Linked DNA regions of Homo sapiens: region 1 is linked to region 2. The links come from fine-mapping of genetic effects on gene expression. A gene starts in region 2. The other region holds a variant in brackets. All regions are shown on one strand. Distances are from middle to middle. Region 1 overlaps SRD5A3 (steroid 5 alpha-reductase 3). Region 2 holds the start of TMEM165 (transmembrane protein 165).

Evidence for each region. PIP is the estimated chance that this variant, and not a neighbour inherited with it, causes the effect.
Region 1: its variant is the best candidate, but not a certain one, in a credible set for the expression of TMEM165 in nucleus accumbens (GTEx, PIP 0.72).

What each region holds. Positions count from the first base shown.
Region 1 is chr4:55,362,012-55,364,913 of GRCh38, forward strand. SRD5A3 (steroid 5 alpha-reductase 3) reads left to right here. Exons shown (of 5, transcript NM_024592.5): 3 at 2,063-2,260. Among named protein-coding and RNA genes, the nearest start is that of LINC02928, 14 kb to the right of the region's middle. RefSeq lists an enhancer at 2,565-2,902. The variant A/C (reference allele first, on the strand shown) is at 1,425.
Region 2 is chr4:55,394,725-55,397,626 of GRCh38, forward strand. It overlaps TMEM165 (transmembrane protein 165), which reads left to right and starts at 1,233. Exons shown (of 6, transcript NM_018475.5): 1 at 1,233-1,672. The coding sequence starts at 1,466. RefSeq lists silencers at 1,039-1,238, 1,439-1,908.

The DNA.
Region 1 (2,902 bases), 33 kb before region 2:
TTCATTTAAAATACAAAAACAGTCAAAGCTAATCTGTGCTGATAGGGGTTGTTCCCCATGGGAAGTTTGGGGGAGGGGTCGTGCCTACACTAGGGGGTGCTGTTCGTGTTCTGTTTCTTCTTTTTTTTTTTTTTGAGATGGAGCCTTGCTCTGTTGCCCAGGCTGGAGTGCAGTGGCCTGATCTCAGCTCACCACAACCTACCCCTCCCGGGTTCAAGCGATTCTCCTGCCTCAGCCTCCTGAGTAGCTGGGACTACAGGCATGCGCCACCATGCCCGGCTAATTTTTGTATTTTTAGTAGAGACAGGGTTTCACTCTGTTGGCCAGGCTGGTCTTGAACTCCTGACCTTGTGATCCGCCTGCCTCAGCCTCTCAAAGTGCTGGGATTACAGGCATGAGCCACCGCATCCAGCCTGTTTCTTTTGTTTGTTTCATTTTTTTCTTTCTTTTTCTTTTTTTAAGAGAGAGGGTCTCACTCTGTTGTACAGGCTGGAGTGCCGTGGCATGATCATAGCTCACTGCAGCCTTTAACTCCTGGGCTCGAGCAGTCCTCCCTCCTCCACCTCTTGAGTAGTTGGGACTACAGGTGCACGCCACTATGCCCAGCTAATTTTTTTTTTAATGTTTTTAGAGATGGGGTACCTGCTGTGTTGCCCAGGCTGGTCTCAAACTCCTGGTCTCAAGCGATCCTCCAACCTCAGCTTCCTAAAGTGTTCTGTTTCTGGATCTGGGTGCTGTTACATGGGTGGGATTGGTTGGCTTAATTTGTAAAAGTTAATTAAGTTGCATCTTTATGGTGTGCATGCGTGTGTGTGTGTTTGTGTGTGAGACTTTTTTTTTTTTTTTTTTAATGGAGACAGAGTCTTGCTCTATCTCCCAGGCTGATTGCAGTGGCCCAATCTTGGCTCACTGCAACCTCCACCTCCCAGGTTCAAGCAGTTCTACTACCTCAGCCTGCCAAGTAGCTGGTTCTACAGGCGCACACCACCATGCCTGGCTAATTTTTTGTATTTTTAGTAGAGACAGGGTTTCACCATGTTGCCCAGGCTGGTCTCGAACTCCTGAGCTCAGGCAATCCACCCGCCTCCAACTCCCAAAGTGGTAGGATTACAGGCATGAGCCATCGCCCCCGGCCGTGACTCATTTCTTTTTTAAGTGACTGGGCGTGGTATCTCACACCTAAAATCCCAGCACTTTGGGAGGCTGAGGCTGGAGGATGGCTTGAGGCCCGGAGTTCGAGACCAGCCTGGGCAACAAAAAAAATTTTTTTTTAATTAGTCAGGTGTGGTGGCACATGACTATAGTTCTAGCCACTCAGGAAGCTGAGACAGAGGATCACTTGAGCTCAGGAGTTCAAAGCTGCAGTGAGGCCTGACTGTGCCACTGCACTCTAGCCTGGGTGACAGAGCAAGACCCTGTCTCAA[A/C]AATAAAGAAGTTGACACATAAAATTAACCAAAAAATAAAAAACAAAAAAGAAAAAAAGAGAAACTAAGTGTGTGTTTTTTTAAAGCCAGCTTTTCTTCAGATTTTTTGGTGGGCAGGTCGTGAAAGACAGGTGAGGAAGTAGATCTTGGGCTCAGCATGCCTCTAAAAGTATAATTTCTTTTTTTTAATGTGGAAAGAAATGCATAACTCTGTTTCTGTTCCTGTCCCCCTCTCTGCCTCTGTGATGCCTGAGATACTGGGGATCCCACAGCTGGGGCCACTCAGAGGCTACCAGGAACGCTTCCAGTTTGCATCTGGCTGTTAGTGCCAGGACCAGAAACCCACAGACCTCTTCACAGACCTCCTGACCGTGATGTCCCTGAAGCCTGGAAGGCTGTCACACAATGAAGCAGAATTGAGTGATGGGTGTTTGTGAACCCAGTGAACTGTGTAACACAGTGAACTGTGTAATTTGAGTGAAGTCAAATTCCTTGACTTCATTTGGCCCATTTCTTCCTTACTACCAAAAAGAAAGATGTTAGATGGGATTTAATACTTTGCTTAACAGTACAGAAAAACAAAACTTTGGATTAATCCCAGAAGAGAAATGCTGACCCTGTTGCCTTCTGAATTGTAGGAGGGGAGCTGGCACTGTCTGCATTCTTAGTGCTAGTATTTCTGTGGCTGCACAGCTTACGAAGACTCTTCGAGTGCCTCTACGTCAGTGTCTTCTCCAATGTCATGATTCACGTCGTGCAGTACTGTTTTGGACTTGTCTATTATGTCCTTGTTGGCCTAACTGTGCTGAGCCAAGTGCCAATGGATGGCAGGAATGGTGAGTGGATCCAGCCCTGCCAGGAGCTCCCCACCCCAGGGTGTATGATGCGCTCTCGGGGCTTGTGCTGTGCTAAGCATTATGAGACATGCAGAAGTAAGAGACAGGCCCAATGCATTTTGCATTTCAGGAGATGAGACTCAAGTCGATTTTAAAAGGCCGGGCGTGGTCGCTTACACCTGTAATCCCACCACTTTGGGAGGCTGAGGCAGGTGGATCACTTGAGGCCAGGAGTTCGAGACCAGCCTGGCCAACATGGTGAAACTCTGTCTCTACTAAAAATTAAAAAAAAAAATTAGCCAGGCGTGGTGGCACACGCCTGTAGTCCCAGCTACTGGGGAGGCTGAGGCAGGAGAATTGCTTGAAACCAGAAGGTGGAGGTTGCAGTGAGCCGAGATCGCGCTACTGCACTCCAGCCTGGGCAACAGAGCGAGACTCCATCTCAAAAAAAAAGAAAAGAAAATGAGGGAAGGGAGAGTGCTTGCATGGAGTTGGGATTTGCAGAGGGGGTGGGGAGCCATTTTGTTGCCGCTTAGTTCCTGTGATTGTTCCCATCACAATAGAGCTTTTCTTCAAGTGACGCTGCCTGAGAGGAGAGGACAAAGAGTACTGTGGTAGTGAAAATTGTGTTTTAGTCTCTAA
Region 2 (2,902 bases):
TGGTGGAGCATGCCTGTAATCCCAGCTACTCGGGAAGCTGAGGCAGGAGAATCTCTTGTACCCGGGAGGAGGAGGTTGCAGTGGGCCGAGATCTCACCATTGCACTCCATCCTGAGCAACAAGCGCGAAACTCCGTCTCAAAAACAAAAACAAAGAAAACAACAAAACAAAAAAACAGACGGAAATTTTATTATCCTGTGACAAACACTGTATCTTTGGTGAACTCAAAGTAGGTTTGCCCACTTTCCCACAGATTGTTTTGGTGGATTAATTTTTTGTTTCAGTTAGTGATAAACTTCCTTAGCTCTTTACTGAGTACAGGTTTACTGTATGTAAATATGTATAATATTAGATTAGTGCCTGGCACATGGTTAGCACTATCGATTTTTATTAGGGACTAGGTCTCAAACTTATGGTAATTAAGTAGCTCACTTTTTCTTTTGGGAAGACGTAAAAATATTCTCAAGCCTAACTCAAGACCATCCTTTCCTGTCTTCTAGTCTTGCCCACTCAAAGCTCCATCCTGCAAAAGTCTTAAACAGTCCATTTCAAAAGCCCAGCATTTTTAAAGGGTCTAAGGAATAGCACAAAACAAGATGCACCCAAAACGTCAAGGCCATACTGGACAAGGGCAACGTTAGCCATTTTTGGTCTGGGGTAATTATAGGCAGTATCTTAAAACAAGGCTTGAAAAATGTCATGTTATTTCCAAATCCCATTTCAGAACTTTAAAAAAAAAATAGCATTTTGAGCTCCTAAGAACGTTTTTGGCGGTAGGTGGCCACATGGAGGGTGGCACAGAGGCTCGGCGGGGGAGAGCGGAACAGAGCTGGGCGTGGCAGTGCCTGCGAGTCAGCGCCACGTAACCAGAGGCGCTCGCACTAATTTGACCTCTAAGAGAGACTAAGCGCAGGGAACAGCGGGTGCGGACATTACGGCGGAAGGCTCTGGAGGAAGCAGAAGTGAAGGACCTCGCAGTCCTGGGACGGTGGGGCACAGAGAGAGAAAGGGAGCCCCGGGCGCGGCGCGGTGAGGATGCGAGCAGAGGAAGGACACGCGGCGCCGGGTACCTGCCGGGAGCGCCGGATCCAATGGGAGGAGGGCCCGCGCCGCACCTCAACCTGGCAGAGGACGTCACGACGCCAAGGCGGTCGCCGGGCCAATGGGAGGCCGTCGCGGGCAGGGACGGGGCCGGGAGGAGTCGGGGCTGGGCCGCGCCGAGGCAGCTGGCTGACTCCAGTTTAGCCGCCGCCGGAGAGGACGGGCGCCGAGCCGGGGCTGCGGACTTCGGCCTGCCCCTCACCTCACTCCCGCTGCTTGCACCTCCCGGATGGTGCTGACTGCTCCCTAAGCGGCGGCGGCGGCGAGTCGTGAGGACGCGCCGCGGAGGCTGTTCGGGGTCGAGGCTTCCCGTCGCCGGCACTTCCTCTTGCGGCGCCCGTGCGCGGCCGGCCCGGCAGGCGGGATGGCGGCCGCGGCTCCAGGGAACGGCCGCGCATCGGCGCCCCGGCTGCTTCTGCTCTTTCTGGTTCCGCTGCTGTGGGCCCCGGCTGCGGTCCGGGCCGGCCCAGATGAAGACCTTAGCCACCGGAACAAAGAACCGCCGGCGCCGGCCCAGCAGCTGCAGCCGCAGCCTGTGGCTGTGCAGGGCCCCGAGCCGGCCCGGGTCGAGGTGAGCGGGCCGGGATGGGGCGAGCGAGGCTGCAGGGCCGGCTGCGCCGAGTACCAGGCTCCAGGCCTTTGAAAGCGCCGCACTCCGCCGGCCTCGGCTGGGGGAGGGGAGCCCGGCCCCTGCTCCCGGGGTGGAGGGCGGTCGGCTGCGCTGTTTTCCGGTGAGGCCTGGTCTTGCCCGCTCCTTTAGGGAAAGGGAGAGGGAGAGTCCAAGAGGAGCCCGCTATAAACGTTGATCTCCGGAGGGCCAAGATGCTGCTCCGGGATGGGCGTTTTATTGATCAGATGTGTCTTAGAGTAGCTAGAAAGACTCATCCCTACCAAAAAGTTTTTAACAGAAGGCTGCTAGGAGGCTTTTTGTATTCCCTGAGGATCATCACATCGGCCATTTCATTGTTGAAATAGCTTATGCCAAACTGCTTACCCAAATTCAACTTGGCACTGCCTGTGCTTTTTGCCAAATATGGATTATGAACCATGACTCTCACTTTTTAAAAATGTGCTTTGGCTAGCAGGAAGTAGCCTTTAGGAACGCAGAGGAATTAGTCTCCGGCAGTACAGCGTGCTGCAGCGATGTGGGATGCCAAAACTACATTTATAAGTAAAACAGAATCCTGTATTTTGTCCTTCCCTGAATAGATACTAGAAATCAACTTTTTAATCTGTTAATAGAATTAGTCCTTAGTCACTTGGCAGCGTTTTAACATTTCTCCCTTCTCCCAGTCGTGGGCTTTGTCGTCATTTCCAGTATCTGCTCCCTGAATCCCGGCCAGTGTGGCACTCAAACCCCCACTCCCACCCAGGCCACATCCAGCCCATCTCCACGTAACTAATCTTCCCGAACATTGAATTCTGCCATCTTGTCAGAAGTCGTCGGTGAGTTGCCTCCACTAATTTCAGTCCAGCCTTTTTAGGAGAGTGATGTTCAGGTTTCTTCTGATCTGGCTCCAGCTCACCTCCAGGCTTTTTAGCCACCGCTTTCTTGCTCATATGCTAAAGGGATATGCTCATCTGCAAAAAAGAATGTGCTTCAAGAGCCCTTTGGGACAGGCTTTGTGCTCTCTTGCCAGTTCCTCCCTAACACAAGACCTTTTCAAAGAAAAAAAAAAAAAGACCTGGAGTTTGAAGCCACGGATCAACTCTTCCCACCTTGGAGAACCAGCAGATACCTACTCTCTGTGAAGACTTCCCTAAAATTTCTTGGTTAAGGGTGATTTATCTGACCCTTTCC